Regions from separate parts of the Homo sapiens genome. Here region 2 is linked to region 1. Evidence: fine-mapped expression QTL. Tissue or cell type: whole blood. Region 1 holds a variant in brackets; the other region holds the start of a gene. All regions are shown on one strand. Distances are between the middles of the regions.

Region 1 (8,109 bases):
CCTCCTTGATCACCCTATGTACAACTGCAAGCTCTAGCTCCTGCATTACCTGCTCCACTGCACTTTCCACTGACATATTAAAATATTTTACCCACTTAAATTTTGTCTTTGTCCCCTCCCTCCACAAATGTAAGCTCAAAATCTTCTGTTTACTTGCCATATCCCCAGGGCCTAGAACAATGCCTCAAAGAATGCCTATAGAAGACACTCCTCAATAAAAATAAAATTTTTTGGATAGAAAAATATTTTCAGACAGTTACAGCAAGAATGCGTTTCCCATAAAAAATCTAATTTGCAAAAAATATTTTGGAAGTATGGAAATATATTCGGAAGTATGGAATACATTTGGATTTGGAAGTATGGAATACATTTGGACTTGGAAGTATGGAATATATTTGGAAGTATGGAATATATTTGGAAGTATGGAAAATGAAACACATTTTCCCAACATTTACAATGCTACAAAATTTCAAATACCTTTCTTGTTTCAGAATTATTTCTTTTATCAACTATTTCAGAACTACTACATTGGGAACATGCAATACTGTTTTAATTTAATCAGCATTTTAATTTGCTCTTCCATACAGGAAGTTAATACTTACTTGACGATGCCATATCCCAGACTGACTATGATGACCAGGGTTCGAGCCAGTGAGCGTTTCACTGCTGAAAGCAGCTCTGCAAGGATCAAAGCACCCTGGACTATGAAAAAGAAGGGAAGAAATGGCACCATAATCTAGGTTTGGCAACAGGCCAGATGCCAATACTAGACTGCTGCTTTCTACACTCTTCAGAATAAGCATTGATATTAGTCCTGCTAAAATAGAATACCTCTTCCACAGTTTTTACAGGATACAAGCTGATGCCACTCACAATCTTACTCATGTCTATGTATGGCAATCTGGGTGCGCTCAACTCAGCTCCCTCCCCGACCTGGCCCCAAATTCACTAAAACTTTAACAGAATACCTCACCCTATATGGACAGTTTGTAGCATCGAGACAATTTCCCCCATTTTTAAAAACTGTGAAATACAGCTACACATAGAAAAGCACAAAACACACTCGTGTACACGCTTGTTGGCATGTACAGCTTAACTTTTTTCAGATCTACTATTTTCAAGACCTTTCAAAGACCAGGGAAAATCTTATCAGTTTATCTCACAATAATAATTATGACTAAATTAAATGGTCTGACAAGAAAAAACTGAAGCAATCACAAAAAACTACAGTATAAAACAACTTCTGTCATTACCAGTTCACCTTACTAAACCATAAGCACTCTCCTATTTTCTTGATATGACTATATTTTATCAGTTAGATGCACTTTCCCACCACATTTTGAGGTTTTTTAAATCAAGGTGTGTCTTACAATCAGTGACATTTTACAATTAAATTGACAGCTTTACTTTTTTTCTTAGATGTATAATGGTGCCTTAGAAATCAACAGAAATTGAGATTTGATGTTAATAATCATTCCCAAAATGGTCACTACTGTTGTGACTTTTGTGAGCATATTTCAGTAAAATTAGTCTTACATCACTGAACTCATAAGATTAAAAACAAAAGTCAGAGTCATAGTGATTCTGCTTAAGATATTGTAATAATTAAGTAATTGAAAAGTTAAGCCTATGTAGTGACTGCTGACCTTAGGAATATTTTCATACATCTCACCTTCCAACCACTCGAACTGGCAAAGATTTTCTGGTTACTTACCAGATTCTCCTTTGTATCGGATATTCTGAAATTCCGCATAGAAGACAGCTTTCTCAAGCATTCCCAGGAAGATGACAGCACCAATCCAAAACTGAATTCTCAGGAGATCTCTCCAGTAGCAGGCAGACCATGCCAGCCACAGAACACCAAACAGGACATATACAATACACATCACCATGAAAAACTGTTATCAAATTGGGTAAAAGATAAAAAGGAGAATTAGGGCCAAGAGCCAAGTCTGTAGATTTAGAATCAATATATACTTTTTTTTTTTTTTTAAGAGATGGGGATTTGCTATGTTGCCTAGGATGGTCTTGAACTTCTGGACTCAAGCAATCCTCCCATCTCTGCCTCCCAAAGTGTTGGGATTACAGGCATAAGCCACAGCGCCTGTCCTGAATCAATATACAGTCTTAACAAGTTACAAAAATATATTCTACCTTCTAGTTAAGAAATAATTCTTCCTTTGGAGCTTAACATTAACTAATATGAAAGCATTATCTTGTCTTGAGCAGAGAAGACTACATATGAACTTGTCCTCAAGAGCGAATGCTCTCATATGTATATATATATATGTGTGTGTGTGTGTGTGTGTGTGTGTGTGTATGTATGTATCACATATGTATACCATATAAAAGGTGCTCTCTATTATACACACAGACACATATATGGTATATATAGAGAGCACTCAGCCTGCTCTCCTATAGTAAAAGAGCTTTTTCTGGTCAGGCGTGGTAATTCACACCTGCAATAGTGCTTTGGGAAGCCGAGGCAGGAGGACTGCTTGAGGTCATGAGTTCAAGGCCAGTCTAGGCAACATAGCAAGACTCTGTCCCTACAAAAAATAAAAATTAGGCCAGGCATGGTGGCTCATGCCTGTAATACCAGCAATTTGGGAGGCAGAGATGGGCAGATTACTTGAGGTCAGGAGTTCAAGACCAGCCTGGCCAAAACATGGTGAAACCCCGTCTCTACTAAAAATACAAAAATTAGCCAGGCATGGTGGTGCGCACCTGTAGTCCCAGCTACTCAGGAGGCTGAGGCAGGAGAATCGCTTGAACCCAGGAGCTGGAGGTTGCATTGAGCCAAGATCGTGCCATTCCACTCCAGTCTGGGTGACAGAGTGAGACTACGTTTCAAGATAAAAAATAATAAAATAAAATAAAAATTAGCCAGGCATAGTGGCACACGCCTGTTGTCCTAGCTGCTTGGGAGGCTGAGGTGGAGGGTAGCTTCAGCCTGGAGTTTAAGGCTGCAGTGAGCCATTATCCATTATCATGCCACTGCACTCCAGCCTGGGAGACAGAGTGAGACTCT[C/CTT]TTTTTTTTTTTTTTTTTTTAAAGAAGGAGCTATTTCAGCTCACGATCTAAAATTATATAGATGAAGACAACACTGAAGAAGAAAAATGGCATGATGATTAGGATACATCTAGAGGCAAGGAAACACAACAAAACGGGAAAACTATTAAAGGGAAAGGAAGAAGAGAATAATCATGAACAAAGAAAATTGAAAATATATTAAGGATATTCTGAGACACAGACGTATGCACACATACATGTATGTGCACACATACACACATACACACACAAAATGAAGAGAAGGGAGCTTCATCATTTTGTTAATTTTTTGTTGTTGAGACAGTTTCACTCTGTCGCCCAGGCTGGAGTGCAGTGGCAAGATCTCAGCTCACAGAAGCCTCTGTCTCCTGGGTTCAAGCAATTCTGCTTTAGCCTCCCGAGTAGCTGGGACTACAGGCGCCTACCACCACGCCCAGCTAATTTTTGTATTTTTAGTAGAGATGGGGTTTCACCATGTTGGCCAGGCTGGTCTCAAACTCCTGACCTCAAGTGATCTGCCCGCCTCAGCTTCCCAAAATGTTGGGATTACAGGCATGAGCCAGGGCACCCAGCCTCATTTAGTTAATGTAAGTGGGATCAGAAACAATAGAGTTGTAGTAAAAAGTGCCCCACTATGCATCCTAGAGAGAATGTGAGATGATCTTTGAGGTATTTCCACAGGTCACTGACCCCTTCATTATATGGATAAGAAAATGAGGCACACAAGGGTATACTGACTCTCTCAAAGTCCCAGTCTAATAAGAAATAAATCCAGGACTACAAGCAACATTTTCTGAATTGCACAGGAACAATTCATTAAAAAGAATACTGCCACAAAACATGGGACAATCTTTGAACCCAAAACCATCCAATACTGAGGTTAAATAATATAAAGTCACTTACAATCATCAAGGGATAGTCTTCAAGTGTGAGGTATTCATAGGGACCCTTCACTTCAACAGTCACTGCCAAAACAGAGTCCTCAGAATTAATTTACAGGATGCAGAAATTAAACAAAAATATTGCCTAATATTTGTTTAATGAACTTAGTAAGAATTTCATTGGGTCATTTACTTTTAGGCACTTCAATCCTGGTCAATATTACATTATATTTGTACAGCACTTGGAAAGTCATTAAGTGTCCTCATAGTTCATGCTGTGTCCTGCACAGGTTTCCATGCCTCCACCATAGTCTGAAGTGGGAAGGCTCTTTTGTTTCCATACTCACATCTTAAAAAAGACTAGATTGAATATTTCCTCCACACAGCCTTCTCTGGCTGCCCATCTGGAACAACTCTACACATACTCTAAATTCTAAACATACTTCATATATACTTTTCCTTACAACACATCAGTAAAATATGCCTTACAGGACTTCCTTTTTACATATTGCCATCTTCTTTGTTTTCTATCTTTCCTCACCTGTATTTTCCTATTGCTTTACTATTTTTTCATGGACTCCAATTTTCTTTTATTGCTACATTCATGTATCATTTTCGGAATGAAGGCATTGGAAAAAAACTTAAAAATTTAAATTAACTCACACAAAAAAATATACCATCCCTCATACAAGATTGAAATCTAGCTTCACAATCAGGTACCCTAGATGCTCACTCCAAAATAAAAATAACTCAAAAGTTCAGATGCTTCAAGGCAAAGCTCCATCCAATAAACATAGAATTGAACTTCCCCAAAACCTGCTAGTTAACATTTTTCAAAGAATTTGTTAATAACAAAGTGTTTAATGAGACAGATAAAGTAACAGTAATAACATATATCTGAAAGACATATTTGCCTTAGTAAAGCAAACATTGACTAATTTTAAGATTATCTGTAATTTTAAAAACTATTTCAAGATGGACTATTTTATTATTGTATTGATAAAATAATTTGGATAAATTCTAGGCATAATTAATAAATAAAAATCTGACTTGAGTGGTGATCATCCCTAGAGACAGACTAATAACTGTTCATTCAACAATTCCCTACTAGCTTCTGATATACCATTATTTAAAGTAAACTACATCCAATACTTACATGAAAAAAAGAGCATTCCATAAGAGCAATTATAAAAATTTCAGAGCAGAACTATTATTAAATCTATACCTTCCTAATTCAATAAAAGAGTAAACAAAATAATTAGTAAATACTTGGATCATATTCTTTGCTTACTCTATGCCTTGGTCAGCAAAATATAGCACATGGGCCAAATCTGGCCACCAGCTTTTTCTGTTAATAAAGTTTTATTGGAACACAGCCACATCCACTCATTTACATATTGTCTACAGCTGCCTCTGCACCACCTCGCAGAGTTGGGTAGTTATAATAGAGAAAAAATTTACTACCTGACTCTTTAAGAAAAAAATTTGCTAGCCCCTGCTCTATGCTAAAATATACATTTACTAAGCACTTATTATTTGACAGGCCTATGGAAAACACAGCAGACAGAAACATGAGTAAGATGTTTTCTGCCATCAAATGGGTAACCACCTTGCAGGGGAGAGGGAGTTGACAAGCTACATAGAGAACTATCCCTCTCAGCCAGACTAGAAGGATAAGTAGAGAACTATCCCTCTCAGCCAGACTAGAAGGATAAGTATGTATTTTCCAGAACAAAGTAAAAAGCCTTCTAGGTAGAGGAAATAACATGAACAAAACAGCTGTGAAAATGTGTGGTATATTTAAAGAACAAATATAGTCTGAGACTGCATATAATACCATATAGTAGTGGTGTTTTGACATAAGGCAGCAAAAGGTAAACTGGGACCAGTTGTAAAGAGTTTTATAAACCTTGCTGCAAAATGTAGTCATTTTATAGGCAATGGGGAGCCATCCATTAAAGGTTTCGATGAAGGGAAGAAAAATGATAAAACTGTATTAGTGATGATGTATCTTCTCCATTCCAAAAAAAGACGGGTATTTTTAAAATGAAAAAACAAGGCCAGGTGCGGCGGCTCACACCTGTAATCCCAGCACATTGCGAGGCCAAGGCGGGCAGATTACTTGAAGTCAGGAGTTCAAGACCAGCCTGGCCAACATGGTGAAACTAAAAATACAATCTACTAAATAAAAATCTAGTAGATTTAATAATTTAGCAGATAAATAATAATTTAGTAGGTTGTAAAAACACAATGTACTAAAAATACAAAAATTAGCTAGGTGTGATGGTGCAGGCCAGCAATCCCAGCTACTTGGGAGGCTGAGGCAGCAGAATCACTTGAACCCAGGAGTCAGAGGTTGCAATGAGTCAAGATCACACCACTGCACTCCAGCCTGGGTGACAGAGTGAGACTCTATCTCAAAAAAAAAAAGAAAAAAAAAAAGAAAAAGAAAAAAACAAAAAAGGATATAAGCTCAAAAACAAGACAGACATTTCCAAGAATCAAAACAGAAACTCAAAACAGTGCACGAGGCCGACTCCATGATCATGTTGGGCTCTTGGGCCAGAAGCAGGCTATGGTAGTTGGAAGTGCTGTCCCTATGGGATCTATGGTAGTTGGAAGTACACTACCAATGTACTACGGTAGTACATGGGATCATTGAAGCTAGTAGGTTTCAAAGAAAAAGAAGAGGGACCAGAGCCAGGCTGGATGCATGAAGAAGCTGAAGTAGGGTGGAATAAAGCTTCTCTTCCAGCCTTTTCAAAGAAAGAAGGTTGAAAATGAACACTGGTAACTGTGCCTTGAGACTATAATCCATTAGAAAGTCATGGGCCTAAAAAGACAGGAGGATACACATGTATGAGTGAGGGGGAGAGGGACAGGGAGAGAGGGAGAGGGAGGGAGGGAGGAGAGGAAGAGAAAGAGAGAGAGAGACAGACAGACAGAGAGAATATGCGTGTGTGTGTCAAAACCAAGTAGTGGTATCCCAGAAGTTCAACAATGATTTAATGTTAGAAGATCAGTTAATTTAATGTATGACATTAACTTATTAAATGAGAAAGCCCATATGATCATTTAAATCAGTACAATTAAACTATTTGATAAAGCTAAGTATTCATTCTTAACATTTTTTTTAAAAAAGGAAACTATTCTCATTAAACTAGGAATAGAAAGGAACATCTTTAACCAAATGAAGAATATTTCAAAAGTTCTACAGTAAACACAGTACTTAATGGTGAAATATACCAATACAGCCAGTAAAGTCAGGAGCGAAGTAACGGTGGCTGCCATCATTGTTTCTATTCCATATTCTGCTTAAGAAAGCAGGGTAGGAAAGGGCCAGGCACGGCGGCTCACCCCTGTAATCCCAGCACTTTGGGAGGCCAAGGCAGGCGGATCACAAGGTCAGGAGATCGAAACCATCCTGGCTAACACGGTGAAACTCCGTCTCCACTAAAAAATACAAAAAAATTAGCTGGGTGTGGTGGCGGGCGCCTGTAGTCCCAGCTACTTCGGAGACTGAGGCAGGAGAATGGCGTGAACCCAGGAGGCGGAGCTTGCAGTGAGCCGAGATTACGCCACTGCACTCTAGCCTGGGCGACAGAGTGAGATTCCATCTCAAAAATAAATAAATAAATAAATAAATAAATAAATAAATAAATAAATAAAAAAAAAGAAAGCAGGGGAGGAAAGGAAATTGCAAAAACACAAAGAAGAAACAAGGGGGAAACCACAGGAAATAAGACCAGTTAGGAAGTTCTTGGAAATTCCACGTAAAAGATGATGACTCTATGAACTAGGCAGCAACCTTGGAAAGGAGAACACTTAAATTCTTGAGACATTAAAAACTACCAATGTTAATTAATTTTTTTTTTTTTTTTTTTTTGAGAACAAGAACGAAAGTTCTTGTTGCCCAGGCTGGAGTGGAATGGCGTGATCTCGGCTCACCACAACCTCCATCTCCCGGGTTCAAGCGATTCTCCCGCCTCAGCCTCCCAAGTAGCTGGGATTACAGGCATGTGCCACCACACCGAGCTAATTTTGTATTTTTAGTAGAGACGGGGTTTCTCCATGTTGGTCAGGCTGGTCTTAAAACTCCCGACCTCATGTGATCTGCCTGCCACGGCCTCCCAAAGTGCTAGGATTACAGGCATGAGCCACCGCGCCCGGCCAATGTTA
Region 2 (8,109 bases), 33 kb after region 1:
CTAGGCAACATAGTGAGAACTCATCTCTACAAAAAATGATTAAAAAGCTAGGCGTGGTGGTACATGCTTGTAGTCCCAGCTACTCAGGCAAGGGAGGCAGGAGGATCACTTGAGCCCAGGAGGTCAAGTCTGCAGTGAGCCATGATGGTACCACTGCACTCCAGCCTGGGCGACAGAGCGAGACCCTGTCTCAAAAAACATAAATAAATAAATAAATAAATAAATAGCACAAGTATTACAAAGGTATAATGGCACACTGTTAGGCTAAAGAGGGAAACGAGTGGAAACAAATTATTAAGACCCTTCAAAAGGCTAGTTGAAGAGACAAGCAATAATAAAATTAGGAATGCATGTCACAAGGCAATATTAACAACTGTTAAATGGTGTTAAATGATGATATACATAATAGTTCCACTGAGAGCAAAATTGCTATCTCAGACCTTGAAAGATATCAAGATAGAACAGAAAGAGCAATGAACGAAAAGCAAACATGGCTGTGGAAGGTAGAAATAGCAAAAGCAAAGATAAGAGTATCAGATTTTTTTTTTCAAAGCCTACCTTAAAAGAGGCCTCAAGGAAGCTCATGTTATCATGGAAGCTTCATAAAGCTCATTAAACACAGTTTGGAACACAGTATTCTAATGGATCAAGACATTATTCTGAAGACTTGGGAGGGTAAATCTGACTATATGACTGATTAGCTGGAGGAAGTCAGTATTCGCTTTTATCTTTGATTCTAGCTATGAAAGGAAAAATATACTAAAGACTCCCTACTTTATATAAATGTAATAATAAACATGACAAAAATAAACATGACTGCATTTAGGAATCTACTTTTCATTCATAACAAAAGAAGCAACCTAATTATAAGCTTCCTTTTTTTTTCTTTTAAACTGTTTTCTCAAACTAATTTTTAGATGACCAACACATTTTCAAAGGACTCTATTAGAATGTTCAAAAATTTGACCTGTTGGATAGAATTTATGGAAATGATAAAAAGCAATTGGGCTATGAACTATTCAAAATAATCCATACAGGGACAGGATTAACTAATAAAAAGCCAGTAAGAACACATCCCCCAAACAGGAGACTTGTAAGGAAATTTGGCAGCAAAAATACTGCTGTTTATGTTACAAGACAATATTTAGAACTTTAAATGAAAGGCTTTAAGAGACAATAAGGTCGGGCGCGGTGGCTCACGCCTGTAATCCCAGCACTTTGGGAGGCCGAGGCGGGTGGATCATGAGGTCAGGAGATCGAGACCATCCTGGCTAACAAGGTGAAACCCCGTCTCTACTAAAAATACAAAAAATTAGCCGGGCGCGGTGGCGGGCGCCTGTAGTCCCAGCTACTCGGGAGGCTGAGGCAGGAGAATGGCGTGAACCTGGGAAGCGGAGCTTGCAGTGAGCCGAGATTGCGCCACTGCAATCCGCAGTCCGGCCTGGGCGACAGAGCGAGACTCCGTCTCAAAAAAAAAAAAAAAAAAAAAAATGGTCCCAGCTATTCCATGGAAAGCTATATACCATCCCCCAAAAAGTACAAAATCAAAGACAACTGGTAAATATGAGAAAGCACAGAAATAACAAAGAAAAAGATAATGTTAAAGTGTCTCAGGCCGGGCACGGTGGCTCACACCTGTAATCCCAGAACTGTGGGAGGCCAAGGCAGGCAGATAACTTGAGGTCGGGAGTTCGAGACCAGCCTGGCCAATATGGTGAAACCCCCACCTCTGCTAAAAATACAAAAATTAGCCGGCGTGGTGGCACGCGCCTATAGTCCCAGCTACTCGGGAGGCTGAGGCAGAAGAATCGCTTGAACCCAGGAAGCAGAGGTTACAGTGAGCCGAGATCGTGCCACTGCATTCCAGCCTGGGCGTCACAGCAAAACTCCGTCTCAAAAAACAACAACAAAAAATAAAGTGCCTCAAATCCTCCAAAAACAATGAAATATAAACACTTCAAAATACGCAGTTAGGGCTGGGCATAGAGACTCATGCCTGTAATCCCAGCTACTCGGGAGGCTGAGGCAGGAGAATCGCTTGAACCTGGGAGGTGGAGGTTGCAGTAAGCCAAGATCGTACCACTGCACTCCAGTCTGGGTGACAGAGTGAGACACCATCTTAAAAAAAATGCAGTTGGTTTAACTTGGCAAAACACCACTAGATCAAACTACACGAGAAAAAAAGACTGGACCTAATAAAAGAATAAAACAGCAAACAGGCTGTCAAGCTATTCCAAAAGACAAGGGTTACTAGGTTACCCAGTAAACCAATCTCACAAGGCCAGTGTCAGAGTAGATTTGATCTAAATCAAATATAAGTCACTGGTCAGGAGACTGATTACATATTCATGGATACAGTATATATTCTTCAGAGAAATTCTACCTGCTGTTTTCACTCCCACTAGAATGTAAGCTCGATGAGGGAAGAACATTTTTCTATTACTTCCCCACAGTCTATGCAATAAGTAATAATTACTCACTAAACAATTGAAAAGAATAAAATTATCCAACTATGACTTAAAATTTTGCACTTCCGTGAAGACAGTATGCATAGAATCACACATCTATCATCAGGATTTTTATCCCTCATCTAGAAATAAAGCTGCCCACGATCAATCGTTCTCTAAATTAAAGCCGGTTTCAGAACTAAAAGGAAGCTTTTACTGAACACACAATGGGATACTTTAGATTCAGATACAGTCATTTTTCCACTAGACAAACTAGTTTTGTTCTACATAATCCCTATTTCTTGATAATATCTGAGCTTCCTCTTCCAAAGCAGTAAAATACTCCTTTTGTAAATAAAGGATCTACTAAATATATTCCTTCACAGCCAACGGCCTGACAAACCTAGGTCATGTTTGCAGTAAACATTTAACAAGCACACAAGAGTAAAACCTCTTTAATCTACACAGAACAGATTAAAACCACCATGCAGGGAATCAACCCCAACATAATCACAGTCATTCACTACATAACATTTCAGTAAATGAAAGACTACATATACAACGGGGGTCCCATAAAATTGTAATATCGTATTTGTACTCTACTTTCCTATGTTTAGATATACAAAAACTTACCATTGTGTTACAACCACCTATAGCATTCAGTACAGTAACATGTTATACAGGTTTATAGCCTAGGAGCAATAGGCTGTACCATACAAACTAGGCGTGTAGTGCCATCCAGTTTTAAGTATACTCTATGATGTTTGCATAATGACAAAATCACCTAAGGATGCTTTTCTCAGAAAGTATCAACTGTAAATGTAATTCGACTGAGATGTGACTGAATATTCAATGTAGTATATACAGCATATATATTAATATATACATTATATATACTAATATATAATGTCTACATAGTGTATATATGCAATGTAAACACCAGAAAAACAAGAGAAGAAAATAAAGTTCACACGAGTACTTTGAAGATGATTCAGTAAAAGGACCTTAGTAATACTAAAAATATTTATACCTAGATAATGCCAGACTATTAGATTTCAGAACTTATAAAATAGGTAATTTAAAACATTACCTATAAATTTTTAAAATTCAAATTAAAACTTCATGAAATTCAAAAACTCACACTTCAGGAAGATAGTGGTATTTCTGAAGAGGATCTTTCCAAAACTAAAATAATTTTTCCCCTGCAAACATAAAGGAAAGATAATTAGCCTCAGATGGCTTCAATTACCAAAGCATCATATAACTATCTAAGACTGCTAGAAATTCCAACTTAACTTAAATCTTTATGGGACGTACCCCTTAATCAGTTCATTCCCTTTACTCACCAATCACTGCTCAGAATAACCAATCATTTTTTCTAATGAACTATTCTGTGTGCAAATAACCAGAGTTTTATTTTCAAATCTAAAAAGACTTAACTATTAACCATTTTAGTAACAAGTAAAAACCTAACTGAACACCTGAAAATCTTCACCACTGAACAAAAGGTATAACGTTTACCATAATAAAAGCCCAAATAAGATTTGGACATTACAGTCAGTGAGCAGAGCAGAATGAAACAAAAAGGCCAACGTAGGTTTAATGGGGCTAATGCTTTTCAGCATTTCCTCCCTGCATCTGGTTTTTGTCTGCTCACAGGACTATACCTGTTACTGAAATAAGGTTTAAAATGGGTAAGGGGCAGAAAGGGTCAACCCATGTAGTTAATTATCCAAATGAAAGACTAGCCTTACCACATTAAATTTTAAGTACTATTTCTTCAATTTTAACCATTCCCATGTTAAAACACATTTCTTAAATCTCTATGCTTTCTAGTCACACAGTAAAGCTTAGAATAGCCATTCCAAAGTTGAAGCGAAGTCGAACCATCTCGTAAGCAGAATTACCCAGGGACCAAGAAGTGCAGAGGAAGAAAAAGAAAGAAAGAAATGAAGACTCCTATTTACATATCTTTCTTATCCAACCCGGGGACACTGGATTCTGTGAAACATCTGAAAGATAAACAACTCTCCGTTTGTACATCAAGTTTACATCTCAAGTCAGGCACTGAAAGTTCTGTTTTTCTGATGAGAAGCCGCTCCACCACTCCTTTCTGTTGCTGAAGTGGCCCTTACATTCCCGCTAGCCTAATCACAGAAGTGCGCGGCTTTCCACTCCAGGGAGGTGGGTCCCAGTTGGCTAGCCACACAGACCATCCCAGCAACCCCACCCCTTTTGAAGAGACTTTTGCGGAACCTTCATGGACCCCTTGGGCCGCCGTAGCCCCACCCCTTGCTCCTCTAGGTTCAGACGTTAGTGAAGTGAATACTCACCGACGGTATCGGAATGTGCCATTTGGACCGGTCGGCAGCAGCTACGGTTGCCGGTCCCGCACTGAAAAACGACAGTGGTGACGGGTGAGCTCCCAGAAGCAGAAGAATGACAGGCAACACCTGAAGCCACGCAGCCGCCGCCATCTTCACAGCCGTGGAGTGCCTACCGAAAGCATTTCACCCTCTTCCGGTTCGTCCCGCCTTCTTCCGGCTCTGCTCTAAGGGCGGGATTATCCGGGTCCTGGAAACGTCGCGGAGCTTGTTTGCTGTGCGGCGTAGCGGCCCCTCTCTCAGACAGTCGTCTGTGCGCCGTGAGACTTTGGACCTACTGCGCAGGCGTCATCCTGTTGGAACCTGGTCAGCTGGGTTAGAGAGATCGCTACATGCCAGCCTGGCCTGAGTCTTTTCTGTCTCCCAGCCGTTAAAGGTTTTAGGACCAGGCAGGCACCCCGTGCAGGATTTGGCTCTCTACTTCCGCTCGCCCCAGCCCTTCATCCCTTCTAAGTCAATGTCAGACTTTGGGGCCAGAAAGTCTGGAAAAGCCCTAAGCCTGGCTGCCCAAGTGGCGTCTAGTAGTGAGTTCTCCGGTTTGGGTGGTATTTAAGCAAAGGCTGGAATTCGGCGGTGGTGGAGTACACGCGATTCCTAGACTGGGTAGTGTAACAACCTTCAAAGGCCCCTTCTAGCCCTGAAGAGTACGATGCTGCAGTACAATCTGGCTGGAGACCTAGCCTCCAGCAAAGACCCGGCCGGCACTTCCCACCCTTAACCGAAAACGGAGACAGAGAGGGTCAGTTTTCAAAATCTGTGGCGTGACCCCGCCACTGAGATAGATCTGCAGATGCTTCGTCCCAGTCAGGGAGGCCGTCTCGGCATTTCCAGGTTCTTAACGCTCTTGATTTTTACCCTCTAGGACTCATTGCGTACACGCCCTCACCGCCGCCCAGTTTCGGTTCCTAACAAAAGCACGTTCCTCATCAGCCACCCATAATCAAGACAAATTTGCCAAATAAATCATTGTAGAAACGCTAGTTTGGGCCTGAAAAATTCCAGGAGCAAGAGTCAAGATTTGTCACTCCATGAGAATCTGGAGGGGACTCCCTTCCCAGAAACTTGACGATGAAGTACTGGTTGTAATTTTAGAAAGACACCCAATCGGCTTTTTTAAAAGATCGCCCAGGGCCCTTGTCCTGAGAGCTGGGAGCTGGTCGGAGTGACAGAGAAGCCATGGAAGCAGCAGTGAAAGAGGAAATAAGGTAAAGGCCAAGTGCTTCTGTAGCGAGTGACCCCAGGGTCCCTAGAAACAGGGAATAGTGTTTTAATTGCATTTCTTATTTGCGTATTTGGTATTTGCTGACCTTTATCTTTTCTCTCAATTCGCGGGAAGTTAGTTGATATTAATAGCCTCTCATAAAATACTTTCAGGATGGTTAAATAGGCCGGGTGCAGTGGCTCACGCAGGTAATCCCACAGCACTTTGGGAGGCTAAGGTGGGAGGATCGCTTGAGTTCAGGAGTTCGAGACCCCCTCCCCGCCCCCTCGGAGTCCCAGCTACTTGGGAGACCACTGGGAGGATGGATTTGGAGGCTGCAGTGGAGCTGTGATCTTGCCACTGCTTGGGCAACAAAGTGAGACCCTGTCTCCAAAAAAAAAGGATGGTTAAATAACATTAACAGTGGAAAAGTTGCAATCAGAACTCTTAACACGTGAATTTCAGGCATGTTGCTTTCCAAATTCATCTATAATCACCCCTTCCTATATCATCCCAGAGTTAATTCTTCGAAGCTGTAAAGAGGAAACAAAAGATTCTCCAATCTTTGTACACTTGATTAAAATAAACTGGGCCGGTTCGCTCATGCCTGTAATCCCAGCACTTTGGGAGGCCTATAGGTGGGCAGATTGCTTGAACCCAGGAGTTCAGACCAGCCTGGGCAACATGCTGAATCCCTGTCTCTACAAAAATTTTAAAGTTAGCCAGACGTGGTGATGTGGGCCTGTAGTCCCAGCTACTCAGGAGGCTGAGGCAGGAAGATAGCCTGAGCCCAGGAGGCGGCAGTTGCAGCAAGCCAAGATCGTGCCACTTCACTCCAACGTAGGAGGCAGAGCGAGATCCTGTCTCAAAAAAAATTTTTTTAATAAATTAAAATAAACGGACAAAGACTGAGTTCAGTGAAGGACAAACAGTTTTTTAGTATGGCCAAGTATATCTGCCTGGGCTTGTTTTCATAATATTTCGACGTTTGTGTTCAGTCATAGCTTTCTACATAATCATGGACATGCTGACTACAGATGCATTCGGCCACACTAGTGCATGAAAGCCGGTGTAATTTTTTTTTCTCCTTATAATCTGTAGTTGTTTTAATCAGATGGAGGCTAGTTTAAATACATATACTCAAACTTCAATATACATATATCTCATTCATGTTTTATCCCAGAAACAGCTCTTCTGGAAACTTGGTTTTAAAAAACATGGCCCCTAGTTTGTCACCTCATCTTAAAAAGCAAGAAATTCCCCTTCTACGTCTGTTCTGTTCTTATTCTAGCACCTTGCACCTCTATTAAAGCATTTGTCAGCTTGTATTGTGATTGCTGGTAAAACCCTAACTGATAGCTTGAACACAGTTCATATCTTCCTCAGAGCCCAGCTCTCAGGAAGAATATTCTGAAAATATTTTCTTGAATAAATCGGTGGGTGGGTTATGGTTCTTAGTTTGTCTGGTTGGTTGGTTTTGGTTTGTTCGTTTTGGGATGCTGTTTTGGTTTTCCTCCTTCAGATTTTACTTTTGTGGTCATAGCCTTCAGTCATTATTTCAAAAGAATATGTCCTCATAAGTGACAGTGATCTTTTCCCATTACTTTTGGAGTAATCCCAGAACCTGATGTTTTGTTGTTTACCTCAGAGGGTTTACAAAAGGCTATTGTTCTGCAACATAATGTGCTATTATGTTATACTGTGGCCGTGACACAATTTTGCATTGCAGAATAGACTCCAAAGGTTTATTTTGCATGTTCATACTGTCGTTAGAGAAGGTACAAAAGTTGGATTCACAAGCCCTGTGTGAAATAAATTTCTCAAAATGTCTTTTTATTTAGTCTTGAAGATGAAGCTGTAGATAAAAACATTTTCAGAGACTGTAACAAGATCGCATTTTACAGGTAAGGAAAATAAATATAGTAGCTAGATCAAAACATCTCTGACAGTATTTCAAAATTGATGCTTATTAAATTTTTGGAACTGATAGACTTTCCAAGGAAAGGATAATTTAATAATTAAGGAAATCATCAGACAGGAGACTCACTTTTAACTTTATACATTTACTCCTGAAGTA

The links. PIP is the estimated chance that this variant, and not a neighbour inherited with it, causes the effect.
Region 2: it holds the start of TMEM87A, and the variant in region 1 is fine-mapped to the expression of TMEM87A in whole blood (INTERVAL, PIP 0.93).

Annotation. Positions count from the first base shown.
Region 1 is chr15:42,235,718-42,243,826 of GRCh38, forward strand. TMEM87A (transmembrane protein 87A) reads right to left here. Exons shown (of 20, transcript NM_015497.5): 8 at 3,953-4,014; 9 at 1,715-1,898; 10 at 603-702. Among named protein-coding and RNA genes, the nearest start is that of VPS39-DT, 31 kb to the left of the region's middle. The variant C/CTT (reference allele first, on the strand shown) is at 3,032.
Region 2 is chr15:42,268,475-42,276,583 of GRCh38, forward strand. TMEM87A (transmembrane protein 87A) reads right to left here and starts at 4,959. Exons shown (of 20, transcript NM_015497.5): 1 at 4,781-4,959; 2 at 3,589-3,649. The coding sequence starts at 4,924. GANC (glucosidase alpha, neutral C) reads left to right here and starts at 4,727. Exons shown (of 24, transcript NM_198141.3): 1 at 4,727-6,036; 2 at 7,874-7,936. The coding sequence starts at 6,008. RefSeq lists enhancers at 4,309-4,558, 4,719-4,948, 4,921-6,120.